4 linked regions of the Homo sapiens genome follow. The protein of the gene in region 1 interacts with the protein of each later gene in a pairwise test. Each region holds a gene or a part of one and is shown in the gene's direction. Other genes may lie near its edges.

The links.
Region 2: the proteins of ZRANB1 (region 1) and METAP1 interact in binary tests that used the Homo sapiens proteins (3 or more experiments, as listed by UniProt).
Region 3: the proteins of ZRANB1 (region 1) and IQUB interact in binary tests that used the Homo sapiens proteins (3 or more experiments, as listed by UniProt).
Region 4: the proteins of ZRANB1 (region 1) and MYEF2 interact in binary tests that used the Homo sapiens proteins (3 or more experiments, as listed by UniProt).

The regions. Positions count from the first base shown.
Region 1 is NC_000010.11:124,972,747-124,980,769, forward strand, and holds part of ZRANB1 (ubiquitin thioesterase ZRANB1), read left to right. Parts: intron 1-898; coding exon 899-970; intron 971-1,453; coding exon 1,454-1,652; intron 1,653-8,023. UniProt on the Homo sapiens protein: Ubiquitin thioesterase, which specifically hydrolyzes 'Lys-29'-linked and 'Lys-33'-linked diubiquitin. Also cleaves 'Lys-63'-linked chains, but with 40-fold less efficiency compared to 'Lys-29'-linked ones.
Region 2 is NC_000004.12:98,997,953-99,005,975, forward strand, and holds part of METAP1 (methionine aminopeptidase 1), read left to right. Parts: intron 1-8,023. UniProt on the Homo sapiens protein: Cotranslationally removes the N-terminal methionine from nascent proteins. The N-terminal methionine is often cleaved when the second residue in the primary sequence is small and uncharged (Met-Ala-, Cys, Gly, Pro, Ser, Thr, or Val).
Region 3 is NC_000007.14:123,496,286-123,504,308, reverse strand, and holds part of IQUB (IQ motif and ubiquitin-like domain-containing protein), read left to right. Parts: intron 1-945; coding exon 946-1,107; intron 1,108-1,192; coding exon 1,193-1,365; intron 1,366-1,556; coding exon 1,557-1,712; intron 1,713-7,402; coding exon 7,403-7,613; intron 7,614-8,023. UniProt on the Homo sapiens protein: Adapter protein that anchors the radial spoke 1 (RS1) complex to the A microtubule of outer doublet microtubules in axonemes. The triple radial spokes (RS1, RS2 and RS3) are required to modulate beating of the sperm flagellum.
Region 4 is NC_000015.10:48,174,502-48,182,965, reverse strand, and holds the start of MYEF2 (myelin expression factor 2), read left to right. Parts: upstream 1-4,670; 5' UTR 4,671-4,728; coding exon 4,729-4,889; intron 4,890-8,464. UniProt on the Homo sapiens protein: Transcriptional repressor of the myelin basic protein gene (MBP). Binds to the proximal MB1 element 5'-TTGTCC-3' of the MBP promoter. Its binding to MB1 and function are inhibited by PURA.

The DNA.
Region 1 (8,023 bases):
AGATTCTGAGATCTGTTTGTTTTGTTGCTGTTTTTTTTTTTTTTAGATTGAAACGGGGTCTTGCTCTGTTGCCCAGGCTAGAGTGCAATGGGCGTGATCATAGCTTACTGCGCCTTCAACTTCTGGGCTCAAGTGATCTCCTGCCTTGACCTCCTGAGTAGCTAGGACTATAGGCACATGCCACCCACCCCTGGCTAATTTTTAATTTTTTTGTAGAGATGGAGTCTCGCAGTATTACTCAGGCTAGATCTCAGTGTTTTTAATTTTTATGTTCAGACAAACGGATTTTTACAAATTGTAGGAGATAGTAACTAAGTTTTCTGAAACTGGAGGAAGTTTCATTTGAAATGCACTTGTTCTGAGTATTTAAGCTTACCCCAGAATGATTAGATTTTTAAAAATTTATTTTTTATTTTTATTTTTTGAGACAGGGTCTTACTCTATCGCCTAGGCTGGAGTGCGGTGGCAGGATCACGGCTCATTGCAGCCTTGGCCTCCCCAGGCTCAAACAGTTCTCTCACCGTAGCCTCCTGAGTAGCTGGGACACAGGTGTCTGCTGCCTTGTCTGATTAATTTTTGTATATTTTTTGTATAGAGACAGGGTTTTGCCGTGTTGCCCAGGCTGGGCTCAGAATCCTGAGTTCAAGCAGTATGCTGGCCTCAGCCTCCCAAAGTGCTGGAATTATAGGCGTGAGCCATTGCACCCGGCCCAGAAAAGAAATATTTTATATCACACATGTTACACTGGTATATTAAGAAAAAGCTATCTGATAACCTTCAATGGAAAGGGAGTTATTTTAGAGAAAGTTACTAGTAGGTAATTAATAAGTGTAATTAAGTATAAGTTAAGTGTAAGTTATGAAACAAAAGATCTTTTAAGTTTGCATTTTCTTTGTAGATATTGAAGATTTGCCCCCAACAGTCCAAGAAAAATTATTTGATGAGGTGCTTGATAGAGACGTTCAAAAAGGTAAGCATGGAATTAATGAGTATAATTTACCTTTCATCTGATCAAGTAAGTTTTGTTTAGTAAGGCATGGTGTAGTTTGGTGTGTAGTCAACTTGCTTTATTTTTATTTTAAATTAAAGACGTAAAGTCCTGAAGTTCAGTGTTATATTGTATGGTTCACTGTTACAGAGTGAACAAATAAAGATACAAAAATTTTAAAACCTTGGTTCTCCGCTTCCTGTTCCAGAATGTATATATTTCTATATGAAACACTTTTTAGAAAATAAAACTGTAAAGAATTTAAAAGTTTATTAAATTATTCTAGAGACAGAAGATGTTTCAAGTACTCAAAAGTTTATATTTCAATTGGTCAATTTTATTTAGGTGTTTATTGGTAAATTACATATAAACCATTTTATAGCTAGAAAATAGGTTCTTCTCCCCATGAGTATTCTCTAATGACATAGGTATGGAAATGAACATGTATTTAAATCCATCGTACAGAATTAGAAGAAGAATCTCCAATTATTAACTGGTCCTTGGAATTGGCTACACGTTTGGACAGTCGACTGTATGCACTTTGGAACCGGACTGCAGGAGACTGCCTACTTGATTCAGTTCTACAAGCTACCTGGGGCATCTATGACAAGGACTCAGTGCTTCGGAAAGCCCTGCATGACAGCCTGCATGACTGTTCACATTGGTGAGCTGGCATTCTGCCCTGTTTCAACCCAGGAGTGCATTTGCTGGATTATTTCCTTGTAGTGGTGGGATACTTTTTATGTCAGTTATATTTTCTATGGAAACTGGAGGAAAAACAGTTCATTTTGGACATTAAAATACTTTGAACACGTCCATGGTTTCTGTTTTTGTTTTTCCCCCAAGAAATGAGATAAAAGCAAGAATCAATGGTTTTTATACATTTTTTTGCTAAATTTTAAAATAGAAACATTTGAAGCTTTAAAATGCAAGCATTTATTGTTTCTATAAGACACAGGCAGTATATTTGAACATTTCAAATGCAGCATTTCAAGTTATATATAGTAGCCTTAAATATTGATAAGGCCGTTGCTCATCTTTTTAGGGATTGATTGACTGATTGATTGATTGATCCATCGATGGAAGCAGGGTCTGGCTCAATTGCTGTGCTGGAGTGCAGTGGTGCAGTCTTGGCCCACTGCATCCTCCACCTCCTGGGCTCAAGCCATCCATCCACCTCAGCCTCCTGAGTAGCTAGAACTACAGGTGCTCATCACCATGCCTGGCTGTTTTATGTATTTTTGGTAGAGATGGAGTTTTGCCATCTTTCCCAGGGTGGCTTTGATAATCCTGATCTCAAGCGATCCGCCTGCCTGGGGCCCCCAAAGTGCTTGGATGACAGGCCTGAGCTGCCGCACCCAGCCTTATTGAATATTTGTGTTCACATAAGAGGTTATCTTGACATTGTGTTACAAGTTTTTTTCCTTCCTGAGGGAGTCTTAAGATCACATTTTTTATTTTGCAAATTTTCAAACCCATGGAATAATTTTAAAAAAATTCAGTGCAATAGATCCTGGTATTTTCTTCATTCAGTTGAGCAGTTATTAACATTTTGCCACACCTGCTCCATGTCTCCATACAGAAAGACTCGTGGGTCAATTCGTTGTAGACATCATGATGCTTTACCCTTCAAAATATCAACATACATCTTTCCAGAATAAGAATATTGTCCTACTCACCCACATCCCCATTCCTACATCTAAGTAATTCAACATTGATTCTGTTATCTAACAGTTCATAATCACATTTCTTCAATTGTATCAAAGTGTTCTTTATATATATATTTTTTAACAGCATGCAATCACTGGAAAAATAATTGTTTTTGTGAATGAATAGTTCAGTCTTTACATTTGTTTGACTTATGTGGTATTTTTTTGGTTCTTTGAACATTATCTCATTTAGTTATTACAGGCATGAGCCACCGTGCCCGGCCTATAAATTACTTTCTTGAGAGCTAAATTGTAGATCAAAGCATAATGCAGTATGGCTGGGGTTTGTGGCTCATGCCTGCAATCCTATTGCTTTGGGAGGCTGAGGCAGGCAGATCATTTGAGGCCAGGAGTTCAAGACCAGCCTGGCCAACTTGTTGAAACCCTGTCTCTACTAAAAATACAAAAATTAGCCAGGTGTGGTGGTGCATGCCTATAATCCCAGCTATTCAGGAAGCTGAGGCACGAGAATTGCTTAAATCCAGGAGGAAGAGGAGGTTGCAGCGAGCCAAGATCGTGCCACAGCACTCCAGCCTGGGTGACAGAGTGAGACTGTCTTGTGGGGAGCGGAGGGGGAAGCATAACGTAATAGAGTAACAATTTGTGGGCACATTAGAGAAATAAAATAACTTCCTGGATGACCTGACTGGATGTATAATAAAGCTAAAGAATGAATGTGTCACTCCGGTAGTTTTAGTCAATTAGTAATTGTCCTGGAGAGAGGGCTCTTTTGTGCCTCTTAGTGGAGATGGCTGTCTGGTAGTATGAAGTAGGTTCATCGGGCTGGGTAAGCCTGATGCTGGTCAGTGCTCTGCCGGTCTGGCCCTCTTGATCAGATCCTGTGGTCACCAAGCAGCTTCCTGTTGCTGATTTTCTTAGCTTCCTACTGCTGATTTTCTTGACCACTGCTATGGGCCTGTCTATGTCAAGAGGATGAACCTGGTTTGGTTCCTAAGACAGTGGGTTCTTGGCATTGTGGTTTCACAGGTCTGCCTTGTAGTTTTGGTTAATGTCACTCTGCCCTGTAAGATGGAAAGCCAGGTTTGAACTGTGGTAAATCTACCACTTTGCAGGTTCTCTCTAAAAAGGCAGCCAGTAATCTTTTCTTTGGTGGTAATTTCCTTTTTTTTTTTTTTTTTTTTTTTTGAGGCAGAGTCTTACTCTGTCGCCCAGGCTGGAGTGCAGTGGCATGATCTCGGCTCACTGCAACCTCTGCCTCCCGGGTTCAAGCAATTCTCGTGCCTCAGCCTTCGAAGTAGCTGGGATTACAGGTGGCGCCACCATACCTGGCTAATTTTTTGTATTTTTAGTAGAGATGGGGTTTCACCATGTTGCCCAGGCTGGTCTCGAACTCCTGAGCTCAGGCAGTCCGCCCACCTCGACCTCCCAAAGTGCTAGGATTACAGGCGTGAGCCACCGCGCCTGGCCTTTTCTTTGGTGGTAATTTCCTGATCTGTTGAAAGGCCAAAAGTACACTGTGGATTTTAGAAGTGATGTCTTTTTTTTAGTGATGAGGGTTTTTGGTGGTGGTGTTTGTTTTTTGAGAAAGGGTCTTGCTCTGTCACCCAGGCTGAAATGCAGGGGCACGATCTTGGCTCACTGCATCCTTCACTTTCTTGGGCTCAGGTGATCCTCCCACCTCAGCTTCCTATGAGTGGCTGGGACTGTAGGAGTGTGCCACCACACGTGGCTAATTTTAAAATTTTTCTGTAGAGATGAGGTCCTCACTGTATTGCCCAGGCTGGTCTTGAACTCCCGGACTCGAGTGTTTCTTCTGCCTTAGCCTCCCAAAGTGCTGAGATTACAGGCATGAGCTACTACTGCACCTGGCCTTTTTTTTTTTTTTTTTCTTTTTTTAAAAAGACATTTGTGGTGAGTAAGAATTGCTTTGGGGTTTATGCCCACCTGTTCCTCAGAGCTGGCTATGGATGATCTTATGAGTGAGTTGTCACTAATGTTTGTATCGGGACTGGAATTCTCAGATGGTTGCAAGTCATTTGAGGTCCCAGAAGTCCAGCATAGAGATAGGGAGATTGTGGGCAGATCTCTTGAGCCTAGGAGTTCAAGACAAGCCTTGGCAACATAGTGAAACCCTGTCTCCACCAAAAAATACAAAATTTAGCCAGGCGTGGTAGTGTGTGCCTGTAGTTCCAGCTACCTGGGAGGCTGAGGTGGAAGGATTGTTTGAGCCTGGAAGGTTGAGGCTGCACTGAGCCAAGATCATGCCACTGCACTCCAGCCTAGGTGACAGAGTGAGACCCTGCTAAGAAAAAAAAAAAAAAAAAAAAAAAAAGATGGTTTGGTGGAGAAATACAGTCTGATGTTGTAAATAGGCTAGATAGGGAGTGGCTACTAGGGTGAGAAGGAACTAGGCTGTTTGTTTACAGCCACTGGCAAGAGTTGTTGCAGCAGAACTTTTAGTCCATAGTCCTGACTCTTAAAGGATGCTTCAGGAGTGAGCACCTAGGGCTGGCATATGGACAGGTGTCCCAGAACAGCATGGTTTGGCATCACCTCCTCCAGTCCCTGCCACCGGGGAGCTTTGCCCGATGGTTTACAGTTCAGGCATAGGAAGCTGCATTGATTACAGTGATCACACAGACATCCTTACAGTATTGGGGGGTGGGTTGGGGTGAAAATTAGTGGTTAGATAGTAAGTGTTGTTGCCATGGATTCGGGAGATCAGATATACTAGCCCTAAGGAATAACCCATACATAGTTCTTGTGTTGAGTTGCATTAGGTTTGTCCACTGGGCCTGTCATGTGACCAGTAGAGAGTAGAGTGAGCAGCCGTGGGTTTTCTAGGCCAGGAGAGGAGGAGCCAGCATGTAGCTTGTGTAGTCTCCTTTTAAAGATGCTCTTTGCTGAGGTGCCTTTTGCACTTAATTGAAATCAGCTGGAGTGAGATGTTTTCTTAAGTCATATAAGATACATAGTAAGAACTGAGAAAGCAATTTTCTTTTATTTGAACCCCTCCACCCGTCACTTCAAGATAGGCTATTTGTGTTTGTAGCTAGCTGTGCTGTTCTCTTGGATACCCGTGATTTTAGCTGACTCAGGTTCTCAAGTCTGAATATATTGTACTTGCCTTTCAGTGACATGCCAACCCAATTTCCCACGGGGCAGGTGGAGGCGTTTAATGTTAATTGGGGAAAAAAATCAATATAAGTCTTTTAGAATTATTCCTTTTTTTCTTTTTGGAGACAGGGTCTTGGTCTGTTGCCTGGACTGGAGTGCAGTGGTGCGATCTTGGCTCACTGTAACCTTATACCTTGTGGGCTCAAGCAATTCTCCCACCTCAGCCTCCCAAGTAGCTGGGACTACAGGCACATGCCAACATTCCCAGCTAATTTTTTTTTTTTTTTTTTTTTTGTATTTTTTTGTAGAGACGGGGTTTCGCTATGTTGCCCAGGCTGGTCTCAGACTCCCACCTCGGCCTCCTAAAGTGACTGTTTTTGTTATGAAGAATTATCGGCCGGGCCTGGTGGTTCAGGCCAATAATTCCAGCGCCTTGGGAAGCTGAGGCTGGAGGATTGCTTGAGCTCAGGAGTTCAAGACCAGCCTGGGCAACATAATGAGACCCTGTCTGAAAACAAAGAAAAACACAATGAGATACTACTTCACATGCACATAAATGGCCATAACCAAAAAGACAAATGATAACAGTGTTGTTGAGAATTTGAAGAAATTGGAATCTTCATACATTGCTGATAGCAACGAAAAATGTTCTAGGTCTTGAACTCCTGGGCTCAGGTGATCTTCTAGCCTCAGCCTCCCAGTTAGCTGGGATTGCAGGCACATGGGCTCCTTGTGATTTTGATTTGCATTTCCCTATTTAATGATGATACTGAGTGTCTTTTCATGTGCTTATTGCTCATTCCTATAGCGTCTTTGGTTTAATATCTTTCCACGTCTTTTGCTCATTTTTAAATGGATTGTCTTAATATTGATTTGCAGATGTTGTTTGTATCAGGTCCCTTATTGGATATCTGCTTTGCAGATATTTTTTTCTATTCTGTGGCTTGTCTTTTCACTTCATTAGCAGTGTCTTTTGAAATCACGAGTCTTTAATTTGATCAAGTTCAGTTTATCAATGTTTTTCTGTTATTGCTCATGCTTTTGCTGTTGTATCTGAAGAGATTTTTGTCTAGCCCAAGGTCACGAAGATTTACTCCTGTGTTTTCATAGAAGAATTTTATAGTTTTAACTTTTACATTTAGGTCATTTTTGTTTTACATTTTGAGGTCATTTTTGTTTAAAGTGTGAGATGTCCTAAATTCACCTTTTTGCATGTGGATACCCAGTTGTTTCGGTACCTTTAATTGAAAAAAACCCTTTCTACATTCTATTGCCTTGGCAATTTTGTCGAAAATTAGTTGACCATAAAAGTAAGGGTTTGTTTCTGGACTCTTAATATTTTTCTATTGATTTATTTTTCCACTGGGCTATCGTTATGTCATTACCAGACTGTCTGGATGATCATATCTTTGTAATACATTTTGAAATCTGGACTGTAAGTCATTTGACTTTGTATTTCTTTTTCAACATTGTTTTGACTATTTTGAGTCCTTTGGATTTCCATATACATTTTAGGATACAGCTTTATCGATTTTTGTAAAAAAGACAGCTGGGATTATGATTGGGATTGCATTGAATCTGTAGATTTAATTGGGGTGATGGTGGTATTGCCAGCTTGACAATATTGAGCCTTCCAATCCATGAACATGGAATTGAGTTTTGAATGTTAAACCAAACTGGTATTCCTGTACCATTTGGTCATATATTGCTGGATTTGGTTTGCTTGTCTGTTCTTATGGAGACTCTGGTAGTATCAGAGTTTAGGTCTTGGGGTGGTGAGGATGAACATTTTAACATGTTTAGTTTTAAAGTATATTTCATTGAACCTCCCTTCTTCAGTGGTCTTTGAAGAGTTTTGAGTGCAATCACCATTGAATTTCTGGCTGGCTTAGCTGTCTTATTTATAAAGTTATTTTAGGCACCAAGAAATTTCTAACTGCATATAACTTTCAGTATTGACAATTTCTCTGATATTTCTCCTTGAACTTTTCAAAACAATGTATTTCATCACTGTTGCCAAAATTTTCAAGACACATTTATCTTAGCGATTATAAAAGAATATACATATTTTAATTTTAAAACATTTGGAATTATGATTAAACATCCTCAGTTACGTGGAGTATGAAAAATGTTTTAAACTGAGTTAAACCTCTGGAACATTATATTTTAATTTCTTTAGGAAATATATTTACTCTCTAAGGAGCCCTTCATTAAATTACTGTAAAGTTACTTGTGACACCACCCATTT
Region 2 (8,023 bases), on another chromosome or scaffold:
AAACGCCCACAAAAAACCCTATCAAACAAAACCTTTTGTACAGAAGTTATTTTTCCCGCAGTCTGATTATGCGTATCCCTCATTGCTTTCAGGATTCCAGCCCCACATTCAGGGCCCCTCTTCTGAGCCTCTTGCTCTAGCCAAAGGCTATGTTTACATTCTTTCCTTTCCGAAGTGTCACCTGTCTTCTGAAATCACAGCTGTTCCCCCAATCCCAGCTTGAGACCTTGATCAAGTCACTGTAACTTATTCTAAGCGCTTTATACATCTGTGATGAAATATGGGCTTGGCTGGGCATGGTGGCTCACACCTGTAATCTCAGCACTTTGGGAGGCCTAGGCGGGTGGATCACCTGAGGTCAGGAGTTTGAGACCAGACTGGGCAACATGTCAAAACCCTGTCTCTACTAAAAATACAAAAATTAGCTGGGCGTGGTGGCACACGCCTGTAGTCCCAGCTACTCAGGAGGCTGAGACACAAGAATCACTTGAACCTGGGTGGTGGAGGTTGCAGTGAGCCGAGGTTGCACCACTGCACTCTATCCTGGGCAACAGAGCAAGACTCCGTCTCAAGAAAAAAACAAAAACAAAACAAAACAAAAAACCAAAAAGAAGAAATTAGGGATTTTCCTTAACACTTCTGTGATCACTAGGAGGTCTTTCTTTCTACTGCTCTGGTCCCTGGCCTGGCTGTCTGGCCAGCTTGTCTTTGGGAACAAACAGAACAAAACTGCAAGAGGCCTTTCTATCACACCATTAACAGAAGTAAGGCATTCCCAGTTACTCTGTCACACCACCTTGTTTATTCCTTTATGACCTTTTGTGCAATCTATGATTACCTCACCTGTTAGAAAAATGAGGATTTTTTTTTTTTTTGAGACGGAGTTTCGCTTTTGTTGCCCAGGCTGGAGTGCAATGGTGCGATCTCGACTCACCGCAACCTCCGCCTCCCAGGTTCAAGCAGTTCTCCTGCCTCAGCCTCGCAAGTAGATGGAATTACAGGCATGCACCACCACGCTCAGCTAATTTTGTATTTTTAGCAGAGATGGGGTTTCTCCATGTTGAGGCTGGTCTCGAACTGCTGACCTCAGGTGATCCACCCTCCTTGGCCTCCCAAAGTGCTGGGATTACAGGCGTGAGCCACCATGCCCGGCCGAGAATGTCTGTTTTTTAGTCGGAAGGTGAACTTCATGAATGATCCTATCTTGTTCACTGCCCTGTTCTCATTTCCCAGTATGATGCTCTGTATGCAGTAGGTGGCCATTAAATGTTTGAATTAATGGATAAATGCATCAAAATAGAGAGGTATACTGCTGTGTTTGAATCACAGCTCCATCATTTACTAGTTATGTGACTTGGGCAAATAACCTCTCTTTTTCAGCTGTATCTTTTTAAAATGGGGCTATTAATAATACCTATCTCAGGGTTTTGATGAAGACTAAATCCAAAGTATGTAAAGCTCTTAGCATATTAGTAAACTTAATGAATGTTAGCTCTTTTTATTGTTATACTGTTTTATGTTTAGGAAAGTAGAAATATTTTATCTAGGATGCTTAATTTTTTTTTTTTTTTTTTTTGAGACCGAGTCTTGCTCTGTCACCCAGGCTGGAGTGCAGTGGTGTGATCTCGGCTCACTGCAACCTCTGCCTCCCGGGTTCAAGCGATTCTGCTGCTTCAGCCTCCCCAGTAGCTGAGATTACAGGTGCGCACCACCACGCCTGGCTAATTTTTTTGTATTTTTAGTAGAGACGGGCTTTCACCGTGTTAGCTAGGATGGTCTGTAACTCCTGACCTCGTGATCCGCCTACCTCAGCCTCCCAAAGTGCTAGGATTACAGGCATGAGCCACTGTGCCAGCCTAGGATGTTTGATTTTAAGGAAAGCTTTTGTTCTTTAGAGGAGTACAACCAGTTTTACTTGAAAATTGAGTTTTCCAAGAGTTCTTGATGTTCGATTGTGTTTATTAATAGAAGTTTTCCTTCCTATTTAATAGTTTATGTATGTCTTTTTCATTTGTGTGTAAGAATTTTTTGAGGACAGAGGGTGTGTTTTACTCATTTTTGTATTTTCCAAAGTGCCTTGCCCACAGTAGGCCCTCATTTCCTTACATGAAAGAAAAGACATCAGTGGGCTTGCAATGGAAAACAAAGAAATTCTGTATTTACATTATCCTTTGTAAACACTGAATAGTATAGTATATTGTTGATACACTCATTTATTTGCTTATGGTTGAATTTAGTTACTTTTCAGTTTTTTAGCTGATGTTTAACTTTGTGAATAGCATAGGGCAGTTGCTGTCTCCTCTGGTTAGAGGATCAGCTGGGAGGGACCTGAGTGATCTGTAACTATTTATATTTATAAGGCATAAAAGGTAGTAAGCATAGTGTAAGTGGAAGGAGACCTGGATTTTGCTCCCATGACCTTGGGTAAGTCCCCTCCTTTGCTTAATGAAGCATCCTCTTCAATGGAGTTGAGCAGAAGGTGACTAAGAGAGCATCCAGGGTGCCTAGTAGAGCATATAGTAAATTTGGGCCTTATTGTGCATATAACCTCATATGTAATGTTATTAAAATCAGTACCAAGGAAGGCTTAAAAATCTTTGAGGGGAAATGTTACTTGTTTATGAACATTTTTGACAAATCCAATAATAGGTTCTTTAAAAGAAGTGGTAGGTAACATGATTAACTGAATCCAGGAAGAAAGTCTTTTTTTTTTTTTTTTTTAAATAACAAGACAGTTTTTCTTCTCTCTCTCTCTTTTTTTTTTTTTGAGTTGGGATCTTACTCTGTCAACCCAAGGTTGAAGTGCAGTGGCGTGATCTTGGTTCACTGCAACCTTCACCTCCCAGGCTCAAGTGATCCTCCTACCTCAGCCTCCCAGGTAGCTGGGAACACCAGTTTGAGCCACCACACCTGGCTAATTTTTTGTGTTTTTGGTAGAGACGGGGTTTCACCGTGTTGCCCAGGCTGGTCTTGAATTTCTGAGTTCCACTTTGCCTCAGCCTCCCAAAGTGTTGTCTATACAGGTGTGAGCCACTGCACCTGGCTGGAAGAAAGTCTTGTTGAGCATCTTGTAGGTTGGAGTTAGAAGGTAGAGAAGGAATTGCCGTTATAACATGCAGTATCTTTGAAATGCAACCCTGCCCTCTGAAACTTTCTCTGTCAGTAACAACATTCCTGCCAGTGCAGGGTGTTTCTGGAATTCATCTTCATTAAAGGAGATATTATCATGTTGTGCGTTTTTATTTATAGGGATTTTCTTTAAATTCCTCATGTCACTTCAGACCACCCTTAAACACTCCTGTAAGTTAGCTGAGTTTAGGTACAAATGCCATAGCTTCTTATAAGCAAAAAGATAGGATGAGGTAAAGAGAAATTATGAGTCTTTTTAAAACAAAACAAAAATAATTTCATAAATTGTTTATTGTAGAAAAATAGAAAATATGTGTGAAGATAATCAATTACCCAGAGATGATTTCTATGAAATTTTGGTGTGTATTCTTAAGAACATATTTGCGTATTTATTCATGTGCACACAGTTGTGTATGTTTTTACAAAAATGGCAACCATAATACATATAATCTTAGAGAATTTTCTCATCCTTAATGTCTTAACCAGTGTTTTGGTAGTGTCATGTCATGGCTACATTTACATGATCCTTTATAAAGACTGTTATGGGTGTACTGTCATTTGTTTATTCACTTATAGTTGAATTTAATTTCTTTTCAATTTTTTACCTTCTGTTTACTCTTCAATAAATATTCCTCGAAAATTTAAATCATTTTGACTTACTCAGGAACGTATAATAATGGTACAGGATTTGGTACATGAACCCAGAATTGAACTATCCTAAGCTAATTCTATATCCTTTTCCAGAACAGTGGTTCTCACAGTGTAGTTAGTGGATTATTGTTGGTTTGAGGGCCTTCTGGTCATCTATGAAGTTTTGGCATGAAATATACCTACATTACAGTAGAATTTGTAAAACAACAACAACAAAAAAACGAGCATCATTTGGTTGGTAGGCAATCAAAAGTTATACCAGTCTTTGAGTTACCTTTTTGGAAATTGAAGTGCTATAGGAAATGTGATCTTATACTGTTCACTTAGTTTGTGGATTGAAATCAAGTTTTAGTCATGGTTTTTTAAGGTGAATCTTTTTCATGTTTAGCATATTTGCAAAATTTTAGTTAAGTTTTAGTAAATTTCATAGGAGTGACAGACATAAGTGCATAGCTAAGCTCATTCCAGCTCTAGATATTCGGAAGAAAAGCAGTGGCACGGTAACTCCTTCTGTAATTGTCTTTGGTATTACTGCAATAGCAAACACTTTTAGATAGATATTAAATAGGCAGAAATACTTTATAAAGCAACCGTTGAGCTTCATTCTGTATCAAATGTTTAATGTAATGGAATATAAATGTAATTACAACCCTTTGTGCTTGATCCTGAACTTCGCCTGACCTCACAGTTTTAACATGAAGCATTCTTTTATTCATGCTTGGGCAGGTAGTGCTCCCAGCTCAACAATTATAAGTCTTTTCCTTTGATTTCCTTGATTGGTATCAGTCTTGTCTCTGGGTTTGAATAAAGAGCAATTCAAAACACTCTGTAAACGAGGCCTGCCTTTCTCATTGTGTGTGCATGTGTGTGTGGGGCACCTTATGGATGAAACTAGGATAGGGACCCCATGGAACTTCTCATGCTTTGTAAGTTGTAAATAAGTTCTCTCCTGTTTTTATCTCCAGTAACCTGACTTATTGCAAGGCTCAGTAAAGATTTCTTCCTGATACACCAGAGCTGTGCCATGTCTGTTGGAAAGCATTTCTAAAAACCCTGTTAAGGCCAGGCGCCGTGGCTTATGCCTGTAATCCCAGCACTTTGGGAGGCTGAGGCGGGCAGATATCTTGCTACGAGATCAGCCTGGTCAACATGGGGAAACCCCGTTTCTACTGAAAATACAAAAATTAGCTGGGTGGTGATGGTGCATGCCTGTAATCCCAGCTACTACTCAGGAGGCTGAGGCACAAGAATCTCTTGAACCTGAGAGGTGGAGTTTCAGTGAGCTGAGATTGCGCCACTGCACTCCAGCCTGGGCAACAGAATAAGACTGTCTCAAAAACAAACAAACAAACAAAAAACAACAAACCAAGAAAAGCCCCTGTTAATTGGGGTCTGCTATCTGCTAATGTGGCATTTATCTGGGTCACAGGCTCAAGCCTTTAAAGAGTGGTTAGGATATAAATGATAAGTGAAATTGTAACTTTAGCAACTTCCCTTATCATTATAAAGTGGGAGGCAACAGAGACTTCTCTGTGTTTTGAATGTGTGTTTAATGATTCTTCTGTGATTTAAGTACAAAACGCAAACCAATCTTTGCATCACATTCTGAAGGTTAACCCTGTCTTATCCAGCAAGTTACAGGCTTAGTCGTTCAATAAAATAGGTAAATGTAAGTTCCGTTAGGTTTTAAAAATGTCATAACTTTTTTTTGTCTTCTGAGTGGGGATTTATGTTATTACTGATTATTTCACTAACTGGTAATAGGGATGGGATTGACTATTAGAATACTGTTAACTTCTCACTCCACTAAACAAATGATAGAGAAAAATGTGAATGTTGTTACATGAATAATTTAATATTGCTTTTGAATTAAAGTTTTAAGGACCATAAAGTCAGGATCTGTCGATGTATGTTTTCTAAATTGTTTTTGATATTGAGTAGAATAAAAATATTAGTAAATGTTTGGGAAAAAAACTCAAACTTTTTTCCCTCTGTTCTCATACCACAACAGTCATCAACACAGATGATTTCTGTAACCAAACCTATGGGGGTTTCTCCTCACCACCAAGCGAGCAATCATTTCTGCAGTGGACACCAACTGGGTGTCCTTTAGTTCATTTCCTACACTGTTTGACTGGATATAGTGTCAGATCCCAGAGATAGAGGGCTTAGTCCTCGAAGCTGCCCCTTTCCCACCCTGTTCAGACACCAGTCACGAGTTTGGGCCTCCGGAACTTAAAACTTGACTGGCTTCAAGTTGGGGTTCTCATGGCTCCCCCTCTTTGGGTTTGGTTAATTTGCTAGAGCAGCTCACAGAACTCAGGAAAATACTTATTTTACTAGTTTATTATAAAGGATATTGCAGAGGATACAGATGAAGAGATGCATAGGGCAAGGTATTGGGGAAGGGATGCCAAGCTTCCATGAGTTCAGTGTTCAGCTAGCTATTTGGAAACTCTCTGAACCCAATCCTCTTGGGTTTTTATGGAATCTTCATTCCTTCAGGGTATATGGGGTGGGACCCTCTCTGGAATGAGAGTCTTATGACCCACATCACAAAGGTGGGGGTTAGACACTTGCCTTCAGGTAGGGTGAAAGGAAGAGAGCAGGAGAAGGTTGGAGAGAGTCTGTTTCCTGAGGCCTAAAGCACCCAACACTATAACGAGACTGCAACAAGGCTAGGGGAGTTATTAGCCAAGGAACTGTGGACAGATACACACACACACACACACACACACACACACACACACATACACACACACACACACACACACACACACAAAATAACACAGCAAATCATCCACGGGATCTAAAGAAGCATGATACAGTAAATGCCTATATACCTACCATCTAACTTATTAAAAAGAACATTACCAGGAAAACAAGTGAAAACAGAAGGCTCCTTTTTCTTTGTCCCTCATCCAAGAGGTATTCCATATCCTGAATTTTGTGTTTATCATTCATTTGCATTTCCATGTTTGATTTCTTAAAAAATGTATTTTTAATGTTTTTGAAATTTTTTTTACCAACAAAATGATTACATGTATTCTTTTACAACATGCGTTTTTTTGTTTGTCATTATGTTCCTGAGATTTATCCATGTTTCATTGTAGCTCTGGTTCATTTTCATTGTTTTCACTGCTATGTGATATTCCAATAAATTAATATATCATAACTTTTACATTCTTCTGTCAATGGAAATTTGGGTTGTTACGGTTTTTCTATTATAAATAGTCCTCCTCTAGACATTCTTGTGCCTGATTCTTGGTGCCTGTTTGTAAAAATTTCTCTTGGGTATACCCCTAAGGAGTAAATTTTTTGGGTCATAGGATATGTGTTTAGCTTTACTTTGATGATACCAGATTGTTTTCCAAAGTGGTTGTACTTCAAAATAAATAATTGGGACATAATTAAAGTAAAAAGCTTCTGCACAGCAAAAATAATAATAATAATCACAGTAAACAGACAACCTGTAGGGAGAAAATATTTGCAAACTATGCATCTGACAAAGGACTAATACCCAGAATCTACAAGGAACTCAAACAAATCAGCAAGAAAAAAAAATCAAATAATCTCATCAAAAAGTGGGCAAATGACCTAAATAGAATTTTCTCAAAAGAAGATATGGCCAACAAACATATGAAAAAATGCTCAATGTCACTAATCATCAGGGAAATGCAAATTAAAACCACAATGAGATACCACCTTACTCCAGCCAGAATGGCCATTACTAAAAAGTCAAAGAACAATAGATGTTGGCATGGATGTGATGAAAAGGGAATACTTAAACACTGCTGGTGGGAATGTAATTTAGTACAACCACTGTAGAAACCACTGGGTATCTATCCAAAGGAAGAGAAGTCATTATATAAAAAGACACCTGTATATGTATGTTTATCGCAGCACATTTCACAATTGCAAAGATAGGGAACCAACCTAAGTGTCAGCTGATGAGTGGATAAAGCAAATTTGATATATATACATCATGAAATACTCCCCAGCCATTAAAAAAAGAATGAAATAATATCTTTTGCAGCAACGTGGAAGGAACCAGAGGCTGTTATTCTAAGTGAAGTAACTCTGGAATGGAAAACCAAGTACCAGGTCGTCTCGCTTACAAGTAGGAGCTAAGCTGTGGGTACTCAAAGACATTCGGAGTGGTATAATGGACTTTGGAGACTCAGAAAGGGGGAGGGCTGGCTGAGGGTGAGGGATAAGAAACTACATATTTAGTACAATGTAC
Region 3 (8,023 bases), on another chromosome or scaffold:
CCTGGCTCAGTTTTGTATTTTTAGTAGAGACTGGGTTTTCCCATGTTGGACAGGCTGGTCATGAACTCCTGGCCATAGTGATCTGCCCACTTTGGCCTCCCAAAGTGCTGATATTACAAGCATGAACCGCCATGTGTGGCCTAAATGTCTTTTCTTTATAAATTATGCAGTCTCAGGTAGTTTTTTATAGCAATGTGAGAAAGAACTAATATGGGGGGTAGGATGGCTATTAAAATAATTATCCTTCCTCTTGATATGGGTATGTCCTGTACTTACAGTTAACACATTGCGTTTTTTTAATAGAATGAATGTTTAGCATATTATTCTGCTCATACCATAGAATGTCTTTATTTTTTAAATGTTTATGGAGTTTCATGGTTGTTATGTATTTATATTCCTGATGAACTGAGAGTAATGTAGTGTTATTTATAATGCCGAATTCCTTCTCAAGAATGCCACTAAAACTCTTCCTATTATGGAGTTTTTTGTACTAACATCAGAGCAAGAGGTAGAAACTATTAATACTATATTTAATAATTAAACGATATGTGTTCCTATGAGTAAATATATTAATAGTATATTTAATAATTAAATGATATGTGTTCAAAGTTTCAAAGTTCACCTTTGATATTTTCCATCTCCTTAAAATGAGAATGTGTAATTAGCCATTTCTAGAAATGGTGACTATAGTTAATAATAATATATTACATATTTGAAAATTGCTAAGAAAATAGATATTAAGTGTTCTTACCACAAAATGATAAGTATATGAGGTAATGGACATGTTAATAGCTGTATTAAGCTACTTCACAATGTATACATAGTTCAAAGCATGCTGTACACAATATATACAATTTTTATTTGTCAATTAAAAACAAAAAATAAGATCAATGAATAGCCATTTCTTTGTCATAAAACTTTTAAAAATTTTATTTCAATTTTTAGGAAAAATTCTTAAAAATAATGAGACTCTAGTACAACATGGAGTTAAGCCACAGGAAATTGTACAAGTGGAAATCTTTTCTACAAATCCAGATCTGTATCCAGTCAGAAGAATAGATGGATTAACTGATGTCTCTCAAATCATAACTGTCACTGTCCAAACTGGTTCGTTATTTGATGTCTTTTAGATAAAGTATTTTTGAGTCCCTTCTTGGTTGAGCTTTCATTGAATCTTGGTGTTATCTCTCAGGACTTGATCAATACCAGCAGGTACCTGTTGAGATTGTCAAATCTGACTTTCACAAACCATTTCTTGGTGGATTCAGACATAAAGTAACAGGAGTAGAGTATCACAATGCTGGAACACAAACTGTACCTAAAAGGATTCCCGAAAGACTCAGTATATTTTGTAGGGATACGCAGGTAATGTTTTTATTTGTCTCTTTAGGTTTTTGAAGGTATAGACTCAATAATTGTACTGTATGACTCTCTCAAATTTCTCTTAAGTAATTATATGGCAATTAATAAAAGAAAATGAACTCACATATGTAGAAAAACTCCCTTATGTATATATATAGGGGATACTGATTTAAATTTTTAATGTTTTCTTTTAGACAGTTTTTCAGAAAAAAAATCTCCAACAAACTACAAATACAACATCCACACAGATGACTAACATTGGTGTATATGTATCAAATATGACTGATAAACTGGTAACACCAGGAAAGTATTTTTCAGCAGCAGAATACCATGCTCAAAGACTAAAGGCGGTGAGATAACTTTTATTGTGGATGAATACTAAAAATTTGATATATAAGCCAGTTGTTCCGAGTGTGTCTCTTTCTCCAAGCCACATTTGCTTGAGAAAGAATGCTCATGAGTATGGGTCATATTTCACTGCTAACAAAGCAGTCTTTATCTCCAGTATTCCCCCATGTAAAGAACCAGCATCCTAAATGCTCCTAATCCTTCCTTTTCTCTTAGGGAAACCCAGCTTCTTTGTGTATTGCCTTTGGCCATTATTAGCCTTCTCAACACTGCTGTCCCTTGGCCTTAAATCTTGTCACAGTAGAATCACCAAGGGAACTTTCGAGACTAATTGAAACCAAATAGGACAGTAGTCGATTTTCTCTGATATTAACATAGCCGCTCCAACTCTGTTTTATTTTTTTGCATAGTCTCTCATTTTTCATTCTTTTACTTTCAACCTATTTGATCTACCTCCTACCATCAATTTACTGTGAGTAAAAATGACCTGAAAGCAGTGACTTTAAGAGATTTTGCTTTTCAAATGACAAGAAATCTGGAGCTAGGCTATTCAGCCCAAGACCTTTAGAGACAAACTTGTAGTGAAAAAAAGTTAAGTCTGTTGACTTAATTGCCCTGAAGGAGACAGTATACCAGGGGAACCATGGGGTTAACTTTATAGCAGGCTTTATCAGTGCCAGTTATTCCAGCCTGATAATTTTTTACTTTTTCAGTCCAAACTAAATTTCACCAAATAAAGGAATATATGGAGTTATTATATAATTTGGGGAAGAGTGAAGTTTGAGTGGGATTTAGGGGAAGCAGTATTCTGATTGTCTCAATGCAAAACAAGGGTGTGTATAAATGGGCCAACATTAGGTCTGGACTGTGAAGTAGACCAAGGTCACGTTCCTTTGGAAACAAAGTTAAAAGAGATGGGAAATGTTTCTTAGAAGTTCTCTGAAGTTCAGCACCTTGGTTGTATAATTGAGGCTGCTTCTCTCTGTCAAAGTGACGTGCAACCTCTAGGCAAGAGTGGAATGTTTGTTTCTTACTGATCTAATTTCAGACAGGAAAGTTTCTGATAGTTTCTGAATTTAGAGAACGAAGTTTCTCAGTGAGTAAGAAGATAGCAGTCACTAAAAGAAGGGGATTGTTGAAATATTTTATAGTTGTAGAGTGTCCTTGGGAGAAATACTGTTTTTGTTAATTTTGTAGCTGACCTGATTAGTGCCTGTTATTCCAGCCTGACAATTTTTTACTTTCTCAGTCTTAATTAATTTTTACTTTCTTACTATACTGGGCATGGGTGGTGACTCTATGATGTCATCAGAATCATAAACTCCTTTCATCTTTCTACTCCATTAAGCTCATCATGAGCTTGTTACTGTATGAAGATAAAATGGTTGACTAACTTTCATCATGCCTGCATTCCATGTGAGAAGAAGGGAAAAGTCAAGGCAGCATGTTCCATGAATGCCACCTTCAAGGATTTCCCCGGAAAGCCCCACCCAGTGACTTCTACTTGCATCCCATTGGCTTGAACTATGTCATGTGACTATCCCTACTGCAAAAGTGTGTGATAAATGAATTTTTAAAGTAGCATATCATTGCTCCTCAATGAGATTGCAATCTTAGTAAGAGAAAGTAGGGCAAAATGGATATTAAGTAAGGAAATGGAAATTTCTGTCATTTTCCAAACTCCAAAAAATGATATTGAAAGAATAAAAGTATAAATATACAAGGACAAAGAATACATGAGAAGAGTAAATGTGAGTTGTGTTTTTTTTTTGAAGTTTTAAAGCAGATGGAAAAGTGTTAACTTGACTTAGTAGAGCAGAGGAAGTGAAAATCTAAATGCTGCCAACGAGGATGGCATCAAGAACCAAATAGATTTGCCCCATAGAGTCTTGAAAGGTGAATTGGAGGTTCTGTGGGAGGTGGAAGTGAGGTGTGACCTGTTAACAGAGGAATTTGTTAAAAGCCGGTATAGGGAGTACATTTCCGTTTAATAAGTTCTTTTAACCTTGATTCCTTTCTACTTGGGTCATGTTTATTTTATTTTTTTAATAGGTTTTGAGTTCACTGCTTACTATTTTAAATCTTTCTTGTTTCAAGAAAGATGATATTTTGCGTGACTACTGATATTTTTGGACTCATTCTTGCTATTTCATTTTGTTTTATTTACTAATTATTCTTATTTGTTTATGCTTTTTTTAGCCTTTTCTTTTTGTTGGTTTGAATAAATGTTTCTTTTTTTGTTCTTTCATAGTTCAGAAATAAGTATTTTGTTTTTTCTAGTGGTTATGTTACAGAAAAGTGGTCCCGATCCAGACCCCAAGAGAGGGTTCTTGGATCTCCCACAAGAACTAATTCAGGGCAAGTCCATAGAATAAAGTAAAAGCAAGTTTATTAAGAAAGTAAAGGAACAAAAGAATGGCTACTCCACAGACAGAGCAGACCTGAGGGTTGCCTGGTGCTGGTTGCCCATTTTTATGGTTATTTCTTGATGATATGCTAAACAAGGGGTGGATTATTCATGCCTCCCCTTTTTAGACCATATAGGGTAACTTCCTGATATTGCCATGGCATTTGTAAACTGTCTTGGCGCTGGTGGGAGTGTAGCAGTGAGGATGACCAGAGGTCGCTCTTGTCGCCATGTTGGTTTTGGTGGGATTTAGCTGGCTTCTTTACTGCAACCTGTTTTATTAGCAAGGTCTTTATGACTTGTATCTTGTACTGACCTCTTATCTTATCCTGTGGCTTACAATGCCTAGCTGTCTGGGAATGCAGCCCAGTAAGTTTCAGCCGCATTTCACCCAGCTCCTATTCAAGATGGAGTTGCTCTGGTTCACACGCCTCTGACAGTTACTCATACACATTTTTTAACATAACTAATTTTTTTATACCAAGTGCATATCTAATCAGCCTATATATCGTTTCCATGAATAAGTCAAGAACCTTACTAGGCTTTTCTTCATTTTCTGCCCCCTCCTTTCTTTGTTTCCTCTTTCTAGAAGCTGTCAGGATTTTCACTTTATCCTTGGTATTTGGTAATCTTATTGTAATATGCTTGAGACTTGGTGATGTACCCTTTCCGAGAGTCCATGTCTTGCTGTGGGAAATATACCTCTATTATGTTTTTATGAATTTCTGTAATCAACTTTCCTTATTTTATCTGGAACTTATCTCAGAAATATTTTGGGATGAGGCCAGATGCTGAGGCACATGCTTGTAATCCCAGTACTTTGGGAGGCTGAAGTGGGCAGATCACTCGAGGCCAGGAGTTGGAGACCAAGCTCGGCAACTTGGTGAAACCCTGTCTCTACTAAAAATACAAGAATTAGCTAGGCATAGTGGCACGTGCCTGTGGTCCCAACTGCTCAGGAGGGGAAGCATGAGAATCACTTGAACCCAGGAGGCGGAGGCTGCAGTGAGCTGAGATCACACCACTGCACTCTAGCCTGGGTGACAGTGAGACTTCGCCTAAAAAGAAAAAAAGAAAAAAAGGAAACATTTTGGAATGCTGGGATTTATCTTTTGTGTCTCTTATTTTTCATTCATTCATTTAAATTTTTATGAGCCTTTGTCCTGCATGCTAAAAGATTTTCTCACCTAATTTTCTTACCTACTTATTACTTCTTATGTTCTACACATTCTGCAGATCAGCTTACAAGAAACTACTAGTTCTCTGTCAATACCCATTTTTTCCCTTCTCCTATTGTAATAAAGCTTTATCTGAGCATGTGGCTGTTCCACTGATGACCACATTTCATCACTTCCCTTGTGTATCAGTGAGGCCATATAACTAAGATCTGGACAGCGAGATGTGAGGGACAATGTGAGCCACTTACAGTTATCATTCTTAAAATGCTCTTTGTTCCTTTTCCCTCTATTTACTGGTTGGAAGATGGTAAGTGGACCAGCCATCTGGGACATATAAGTAGGAAGCCATTTGTTAAATATGACAGAGCTTTCCTACGAGCCCTAAACTGCTTTGCTAATCCCTGGATTGTCATGTGAAAGGGAAAAAACTTCTGTGTTGTTTAAACAACTGTGTTTTGGTGTTTTAAATAAGTTGAACAAGTTTAATAGCACTCAGGCTAATCCATATTCTATTAATTTTTTAAATTTCAAAAATAAAATTTTTGCCAGTCTTTTTTCTTGGTTCATTATATTATTTTATACTGATAGCCTTTCCTTTCTCTGTGAAAATATTAACTATATCTAGTCTGCTCTTGTATTTTGTTTTGTTTTGATTTACTCTAGTAGTTCTAAAACTTTACTATAAGCATCATCTGGAGGGCTCATGAATATATAGAATGCTGTGCTTACCCAGGAGTTTCTGATCAATAGCTCTGGGGTGGGGCCTGAAAATTTGCATTGCTAATAGTTTTCTAGATGCCGCTGATGTGTTTGAGATTCTTAATGTCCAGTGTGCCAATAGCATATTGGTTCACCCAGTCTGACCCCATGATTTTAGGGGAAATGTAAAGCTTGATTATGGGAGAAACCTAGTTTTCTGGATAGGGGGCTTTTTTTTTTTCATCCTGGGTGTCACCTTCTGGGACACTCACCACTCTTGCCTAGGGACAAATATCTCTGTTGCTCCTTGCCTAATTATTTTAGAGGAACCTATCCCTTTTGCAGTTTTTAAAGTCACCTGGTTAGTGGCCACTCTGCTCAGACCATCCATCAGTTTTGGGCTTAGAGCAGTCCTAGAGCCCCTTGTTTTTTCTGACTTGCTTCTCCAGTGCATGATTAGGTTACAGACTCTTTCTTCAATTAATTCTACTGGCCTCTTTTGTTGAAGGGATTCTTCAAAGTTTCTATTCTTTTGGGGGACCCCTTCAGTTTGATCTAGTATCTTTGTCGATATCTGCTTTACATAGTTTTTCTACAATTATTAGGCATTAGGATGAGAGTAAGGGATGCATCAGCATAAGCTCTATCATCAGTCTTGATCCGGCCTCTTCACATTTTATTTTTATTTATGAGTTTAATAAATAAAATTATAAACTCTCAGAAAAAAATGATAAACTCTCTCAGCTATATCATAAACTTTTTGAGGGTTTAGTACTATGGTGTACTTTCAAACATATTCATGTTTCATACAAGTTAATAAATATTTGTTTGCTTCAGTCTCCATTTTATCTAACCTGCCTTTGGTGGTTTCCACACATACCTACCTGATGTGTATTTAGGAAAACACAGTTTTGTTATAAACATGAGCCTAAGCTAGTGGCATTTAAGATAAGATGGAGATAATTAATATGTATGACAATAATAGTATTTATTGAGGACTCATGATGTACCAGGCTTGGGTTAAGCACTTTATATGTATACTCTTATTATCACTGTTTTACACATGAGGGTACTAAAGCATAGAGATGGCAAGTAACTTATCCAATCAAACAACTAGTGAGTAGCAGAAGGAAGATTCAAACTAAGTTTTACTCCAGAGTCTATTCTGTTAAGGATCGTACAAACATCCTTCTGGGAAGGTATATTTGCGAGATGTCAAAGTCAAATAGCAGTCACATGCATTATACATGTTTTTTATGTTAGTGTTTGTGAAAATATGTATTTGGAGCTAAAACTAGACTCAGTTATTTTGTTGTGGAATTGGAATTGAAATAATCATCATTGCCTTTATTGTCTGATCAAAAAGTTGATGATAGGCACTTTCTATTTCCTTTTAATTTAACTATAGGTGATAGTGATACAGACTTACTACAGGCAATGGCATGCTAAAATCTTCGTAGAGAATTTAAGAAGACAGAAAAGCTTAAGACTGGAATGGGAAACACAGCAAGAACTAAGGAAGATAAGAGAAAAAGAAGAATGGATAAAATTGGACTATCACCGGAGGCATAATCCTAAAACAAATGAAGATTTTGAATTTCTTTATAATGCATTAGAATGTAAGTTGGACACAGGCTTTGCAAAAAATATTTTTAAATTCTTCATTAATAGGAAAAACAGATTTACTGCAGACAAAAGGAAGGTGTTATTATTTTAGGGAGATGTCTTGGAAATTTGCAGTAGAGAATTTTGAAAGATGAATACCACTTTATATTTGGAATAAGAATTAAGGCTGAAATGAAATTAGAAATGCTTTTATATTAACAATTAAAATGTACATACTGCTTTGTGAATTATGCAGTTTTAGTATATTATTTCATTTGATCCTCATTCATGTGAGATAAAGAGAGAAAGTACTGTGTAATCTAGTTTTCTTGTGGTTTGGGAATTTTGAACTCAGAGTTGAGCTGTTCTTTAATCCCTCAATCCAGCATCCTGTCTGATTTTGCTCTTTAGAGAAGGGGCTTGG
Region 4 (8,464 bases), on another chromosome or scaffold:
GCAGATGGAATGTTAAGTCAGCAGATTCTGGGCACAAGGAAGTCTTGAGACTTATCTTGTTGTTACAGGTCAGAGGGATCCTTGGCCATGGTTCCTTGTGACTCCTGCTCTTCCTAATATTTCAAACTCTAGCAATAGCTCCTGGACCTTTGCCCTCTCAGCCTTACTAATTGTTGTATAAGCCTCTAAGACTTTATGCATTAAATCCTTTCCTAGAGGAAACATCTATAGTGTTTGACTGAGTCAAAAGCTTTCTTTTCCTGACTGATAAAAATAGCTAGAAATGAAAATCATGGAAATATATTTTGTTTATATACATACTGCATATTGCATATACACACATATATATATTCTGCATGTTTAAACACTTTGTGAATTGAAACATAGTAACATGAAATCACTTCAATCTACCATTTTGCAATACACCATGAAAAAATATCACATCAGTATACTACTGAAAAATCATAGCTTTCACCAAACTAGGCTCATAAGCAGCCATCAGGAATGGTGTGACCCTTGAGGAAAAGGGCTGTAATACGGTACAATTTTTGGATTCTGTTTAGTTTCATGAAATGGAGGATCACAGACAGAAATCCAATGGCAATGCCTGAAGGCAATGGAGGTTATTTTCTGAATTATTTGAATAATTGAGGTAAAAGTGGAGTTTCTGCCTGGATTATTCAGATAATTGTCTTAATTCTAAACTTCACTTAGCTAGCTGGTAGAGACCTTTGTATAGGATGTATTTTTGGAATGCTAAATGCTAAAAAAAAAGAACTCCTAAAGTAAGCAGAGCTGTGGTGTAATGAGGGTGTATTGGGGGTGATACAGAGATACGGAGGGAGAGAGAGAGAGAAAGGAGGAAAAGAGAAGAAGAGAGAGAATGGTAAATAGCTAATCGTCAGAATAAGATTAAACTTTACTTTCTACTTGATAGTAACCAATGTCCACATTTTCATCACAGAATGAACTTTCTATAAAAAGGGAAATACATATGTAGATTTCAAATATAAACCATAGTATTTTAAAAAGTTACGAATTCCTTTTTAAGCTTTAAAGAGGTAAATTTTTACTTTGTAAGGTTTAGAAACTTCATGCCTTCAAATCCAGCAATTTATATAGTGAAGCAAATTGACTTAAAAATTATACCATACTTTTTGTTTTACTTCATATTGTTGGTCTTTGCCGTTTAATTCTTTTTTCTTTTTTGAGTTTCTGAATACCCCAGAGAAGGTAATCTATTTATTATGAATTCTAGGGCTAGAATATCAGCACAAATATGGAAGTATTTTTAGAAGCTATTGTCACCATAGAAATGTTAGCCACCATTTTTGTCTAGTTTCTTTTTCTTTTAAATTTTATTATTATCCCTAAAACTTAATTCTTAAAGACAAAATAAATTAAAAAAAAGAAGAATGATGACATCCATTCTCTTCTTCATTGGTAACAGAACCCTGGGCAGTAAGCCCAGCCCCCAAATTATTTGCCAACCTCCCCCACAGATGAGTGTGTCATGTGACTAAGTTCTTGCCCATAAGCGGAAGTGTTGTGTGAGACTTCTGGATAGGTCCCTTTTTTTCTGGACTCCTTCTGACCTACAATGCCGACAAGGTGCCTCGATCTCCAGCAGCCATCTTGGGTCATAGGGCAACCTTAAGAATGGAAGCCTCACACTAGGATGGCGAAAGATTAAGGTAGCAGGAACCTGACTTCACGATGACTGTGAAGCTACTATATATCCTCTGGGATGCTCCTTCTGCATTTATTTTACTTAAGAGAGTAAAAATGTATATCTTGCTTAAGACACTATTATTTCTAGTTATTGTTATTAGCAGATGAACACAATTCCTAAGTGATACATATATTAAGGTATTAATTGAAAATATTTTGTGATTTCTAGGATTAGATTTCTAGATACGTGTAATAGCTTTTCCCCTATCCCGCCAGGTACACACACATAAACATGCATTCTAATTTGTAAGAAAGAAAACTAAGTGATTATGTGAAGTTGTACCAGTAATATATTTTGTGCAATTGCAAAGGATAATGCTTTTGCAATGTGAATCATGGGAAAATAAGAATTTGAGCATCACTTAAGAATTTTTCAATGTACCTACATGCACTAAAAAACAAACAAACAAAAAACAAAAAACCAAGGCCGGGCGCTCTGGCTCACGCCTGTAATCCCAGCAATTTGGGAGGCCAAGGCAGGCAGATCACAGGGTCAGGAGATGGAGACCATCCTGGCTAACACGGTGAAACCTGTTTCTACTAAAAATACAAAAAATTAGCCGGGCCTGCTGGCGGGCGCCTGTAGTCCCAGCTACTCAGGAGGCTGAGGCAGGAGAACGGTATGAACGCGGGAGGTGGAGCTTGCAGTGAGCAGAGATGGCGCCACTGCACTCCAGCCTGGGTGACAGAGCGAGACTCCATCTCAAAAAAGACAAAACAAAACAAAACAAACCAAAACAGTAGAGAGGAAGACAAGCAAATACAGAAATGGAATTCAGCAACAGAATATTAATAGTTTTTTCTTTATCTTTTGCAATTAATAGCAAGAAAGGAAGGAAAGATCAATCTATTGAGCAGTCAGATGGAATGGTAAAGATTAATCATTCTCTTCCCTTCAGAAGTTGCCTTAATTCTTTGTCTTTTAAGATCCAGCTCTTTTATAAGGCCCTCACCAATCTCTCAGTAGGAATTAACCTCTGCTCTTTATCAGGACTAGAACCAAGCTACAGCGGGTGAGGCATTTGTCTTGGGTACAAAAGTTAAAACTCAGTAATCAAGATAAATATTTTAATGGAATATTTTAATTGGCAAACTAAGGCATGTGGGCCAGTCTCCTGTTTTTGTAAATAATTTTTTAATTATACTTTGCTTTTATTTGTATTATAGCACTTAAATAGTACTTTTTACATTAGCCCTCTCCCAACAGGGCTGTACTCATTTTTGTATTCCTCATGTACCTACTACTCTGTTTGAAGCATAAAGGCCTCTTAAAAAAATCTTGCATTGAGTTGATTAAAGGATTTTTGCAAGAATATATTGTACTGGTGATGGTGGGGTTCAATTTTCATACTGAATTCAACAATAGCAAAAGAATAACAGAATGATGACTATTTTGAAAGTACTTATAATTTAGTGCTGTGGGAAAAATCACTTGGCTTGTCTTTGACTAAAACCCTGCTGAGCTTAGGGAGATAGAGAATTGTAATATTACATTATGTTCATATAGCACTTTTTCCTACATAAAGTGCTTTCTTTTAATCCTCACCTCAATCCTGTAAGGTCGGTATTGCTATCCCTATTTATTGTAGAGAGATTGAGAAATGAGGTGACTTGCCCAGGGAGTTATGGGCAAAAAGAGGCAGAGCTGGGGTTCTAACCCAGATTTTGTCTGTCACAATTGAATGCCCTTTCTGCGATTATAAATCTTATGTCTCAGAGTTGAATGAGAAACAATTTATACAGCAACTACAATAGCATTCTTATCATTAAAATGTTCTGATTATGTGTGTGTGTGTTTGTGTATGTGTGTGTGTGTATGTGTGTGTGTGATGAAGTAGCTGAACTTGGTATTTTTCGGTAGAGGGTAGGAAACTACACATTGAAAAGCCGAAGATGAAATTATGTTATTTGAGTATTACTTTCTAACTATAACTTTACCACTGATGTGTGTATGATATTCTGCAAAGTGACTAAACTGTACGTGTTTGCTTCTTCATGGAAAAAAAATTTGGGAAGGCATTTAAACTTTTCAGCTGAAAAAGGTTATGTCAATGTGAAAGATTATAGTACTCGAGAATTAGGAGTTGATTAAATTTAACGGTTTCCTTTTCATACTTAGGGGGAAAAATCTACGACTGTATTTTAAAACTCCATATGGCAATTAAATTTGAGAGCGTATAACTAACTACTTCACTAGAATTTCCATCAGTATACAATAAACACACAGTCAAAACCTCAAATGTCCATTATTAGCCCATCTAGTAGACGATATTTTATAATTATGGATTCCCCATATTGATTGATGTCCAGAGAAAAACTGCAGTCTTCTCTTACTAAGCTGATAGTTGAGTTCCTGGGAAATCCTCACCCCCTAAGAACAAATAATTCTCAAAGAAATTCAAAGTCATTCCTTTTGGTGAATTGCAATCAGTCATCAATAACTATTTATGGAATGTCCGAAGGGTGCCTAGGCATTGAAATGGCAAGAGACTTATATTTGCTTAATTCAAAGGATTTCTAAAGGCAGTCTGAGGACTTGCAAGAAGTCTTTAAAGATGCAAAGTGGTGTGTTCTTTAACTGCCCCTACCTGGAATGAATTGAACAGTCTGGGTGTTAGGGCTTTGATGTCTAATCCCGCTTTGCAAGCGAAGACTCCACTGGTGCCAAGCGACAGGCGGGCTGGTGGGCAGACATGGCACCACCACCGGGGGCTTTCAGGACTGGTCCAGCCCTCCCAGGCAGGTGTAGGGCCGACTGCAGCAACAGCGGCCCTGACCCCAGCTCCCATGGCTCCCCTCCCCCCGCACTCCCACCCCCCGCACCCGGCACACACCATCTCCCAGTCACCCAGTCTCGACCGGTTCTCGCGAGATCCGGGTTACTGAGCGCTCGGGGCCTTTTCAAATCGGGATCCGTTACCGCTTCCCCGGCAGCCGCCATTGTCGCGCTCGGAGCCCCTCAGCTCAGGCGGCCGAGGCGGAGGCAGCGGCGGCGGGATGGCGGACGCCAACAAGGCCGAGGTGCCCGGGGCCACTGGTGGCGACAGCCCGCACCTGCAGCCCGCAGAGCCGCCGGGCGAGCCGCGGCGAGAGCCGCACCCCGCGGAGGCGGAGAAGCAGCAGCCGCAGCACAGCAGCAGCTCCAATGGCGTTAAAATGTATTGTCTTTTCCTCCGGGAACCGGGGCGAGGTGGGGGGCGGGGAGTCTACCGGGCGGCTAGAGGCCGGGCTGTGCCCCGATGGGGGACAACCACCCCCAGACCCCGGCCCGCCCCCGGGCCATCGGCTTCCTGAGGAGCAGGTGCAGCTGGGCCGCTCCCAGGCCCTTCCCCGCCCGCCCCAGGCCTGGCCGCCTGTGGTCTGGGAGCCGGGGCTGGGGGCCCGGGGACCAGCGCTCTTCCCTGATTTCTAGCCCGAGACAGCGAACACCCCTCTTCCCTGACTTTGGTTAAAGAATCTTTGAGCAAAGCTCAGCGACCGCCACGGTTTGCAGGAAAATGGTCCCCCTTTAAGGACCAGTAGTTAGTGTTCATCACTAGGGAGTATCTAGGGATGACATCATCGGACATTTCCTCTTAACCACCGAGAACATATTTAAAAGGAATATTCCTGGCTTCTTTCTGAGCTTCACAAGTTTAGTGTTTTGTTGTTTTCTAAAGTGTATGTTCATTTTTAAACTGATTTATACCGAGAGGAAGTTTAATAATGTGCTGTTAGACTCTATGTTTTGTGTTACTCTTGAATTGGCTAGACGTACTTTAAAAAGGGAAATGTGCGATGTGCGTGGCTTCCCTTCCCACTGGGTAATGTGCGTCAGCTGTGGAGAGTATTTTTTTTTTTAACTCAGTGTATGATTATCTTAAGTTTGGTATAATAGATGGTTAAGATTTTTTTTTTCCCAAATGAAGGAAGACTTTTAAGGTCGCAGCTGTCACCAGTGCCTATAAAGAATTTAGTTGACCCCAATCCATAATAATTTCTGGTTCTAGGGAAATGTTATGCTCTCCTTTGTTCCTGTCCTGTGGGAGGATATGAAGTTAAGCGCTTACTTTCATATGCCTACCTCCTTAAACCTGAAGTTGAAAGTATGTTAATAATTAAGTGAAAACATCCTTTTCCTTCTCTGTTATGCCTCAGAGCAGAAAGCAATAGATATATGCTCACAGTAAAATAGACAAGGGAAAGGTCTTTCTGACCTTTGTATAAGCATGTTTGAAATTGTATGGTAAGAACTGGACCAGTCTGTGTAAAAGTTGGTGGCAAAAAAGATGGGGTAGCTCTCCCCAGCTCTTTGACACTCTTGCTCTCAAATGAGTTTGAACAGGATCGGCAGCATCTTCTAGGAGAATAGAGGTGCAGGTATAAGAGATTGGAACTTAGTGGAGTTTATTCCTGGATGAAGAGTGGTGCACCTCAGTAATTGAGGAACCAGAAAGGGAATGAAGTGCTTTCTACCATGCTTGCCAAAATGTGGGCTTTCTGGAATTTGGCATTAAAAATAGAAATGAAAACCGGTGGAATGATAAACTTAAAAATATGTGCTATTCATATCTAAACACGAGTATACATGCCACCTTTTCTCCTGAACAAAAAGTGCAGCCTTGAATTACAGAGAGAAGCCCTCCTATACTTGGGTATGATTAGTTTTGATATAGGGGAAGTTTGGTATCTAAACCTCCATCAGATTTTCTATTCCCTTCTAAAGTCTCTTCATGATTTAGCAAGACAGGAAAAGAGAAAGGAGAAAGGTGGAGAAAGAATCCTTTTCTAATTTAGGAAGAGAAAAATATAAGGTGAAGAAATGAAGAAATATTACTAGTAAATACAGATTATTTCCATATTGCTTATAATTCGCCTCTCCCTTTCTCTTTTTCCCAGAAGTTGAATCGAGTCCAATTTACTCTCAGGGATTTCTCTTACTGTCTATTCCATAAGAAGATTTGTGATGGTCCAGCATGAGTCATTCAAACTGAATAACTAGCGACCTAGTCCTTTTTTTTTTTTTTTTTTTTTTTACTTCGTGAACTAGTAGGAGTGGATAACAACCCCAATACATAAACCTTGAGTTGATTACCATATACTTTTAATAATAAAAATAATTCATTGTTGATTATAAAAATTACCATAATATTGCCCCAAATTATGTATTGGTTGGAATTGAACAGAGTACTGCTTGTCATCAGGATTGAAATAATATTTGCTGAGGTTAATCCATAGTTATTGAGGGTGGGAGACCACTATGTCTTATTCTTCTTTGTATTCTTAAGGCCTAGTAAATATTTGTGGAAGAAATGCAGAAGTGAACTTTCATGCTTATGAAACTCATATACAGGGAATTTAGTTTGCATATTCACACCTTTAGAAAAGATCCGTTTTCCAACTGTAGTCTTCTTCTTTAACGCCAAATGGTATACTAGCTCTCCTTTTCTTAAAAATGAATAGGAGGGAAAAGAGCAGTATTATTATAACTTTATTATTCATGTGTAATTAAGTATAACTTTGGAGTAGGTAGAGATTGAGAGTTATATTAGGGTACTATAAAATATTAAGCATTGGAGCAAGGTAATGTGTTCTTTAGCTGAGTGATTTTTATTAGGAATAAAGACTAGAACTGTTTCCCCCAGCTTTATTGAGGTAAATTGACAAAAATTGTATATTTTGAAGTGTACAGTGTGATGGTTTGGTATACAAATAAATTGTGAAATGATTACCACAATCACGCTAATTAACGTATCTGTTACCTCGCATAGCTACCATATTTTTTGGTGTTGAAAATACTTAAGATCTATTCTTTAAGCAAATTTCAAGTATACAGTAAATATGTTAAGTATAGTCACTATACTGTACCTTAGATCTACAGAACTTACTCATCTTATAACTGAAAGTTTGTGCCCTTAGAACATTTCCCCATCCCCTGCTGCCCTCCACCTCTGGTAAACACCCTTCTACTCTCTGCTTCTGAGTTTGACTTTTTTAAAAGTCTGTGTGTAAGTGAGATCATGTAGCATTTGTCTTTCTGAGTCTGGCTTTTTTCACATAGCCCAATGTCCTCTAGGTTTATCTCTGTTGTTGCAAATGGCAAGATTTTGTTCTTTTTGTAAGGCTGAATAATAATATTCCAGTGTGGATGTGTTGTGTAAACATAAAATATAATATATATCATGTTTCCTTTAATCATTTATCTGTCAATGGACACTTAAGTCGTTGTTTCCATATCTTGGGTATTGTGGATGATGCAGCGAACATGGGAGTGCAGATATCTCCTTGAGATAGTGATTTCATTTTCATTGGATATATACCCAGAAGTGGCATTGATGAATCATGTGGTAGTTCTGTTTTTAATTTTTTGTGGACCCTTGATGCTGTTTTCCATAATGGCTGTACCAATGTATATTCCCACCAGCAGTATCTAAAGGTTCTTTCTCCACGTCCTCAGCAACAGTTGCTATCTTTTGACTTTTCGATAAGTCATCCTAACAGGTATGAAGTGATATTGCAGTCTGGTTTTGAGTTGTATTTCCCTGATGAACAGTGATATTGAGCACCTTTTCATATACCTTTTGGCCGTTGGTATGTCTTCTTTGGAAAAATTATCTGTTTGGATCCTTTTCTCATTTTTTAAATTGGGTTGCTATTGAGTTGTATGGGTTCCTTATACATTTTTGATATTAATCCCTTATTGGATATATGGTTTGCAAATTTTATCTCTCATTTCTTAGGTTGCCTTTTTATT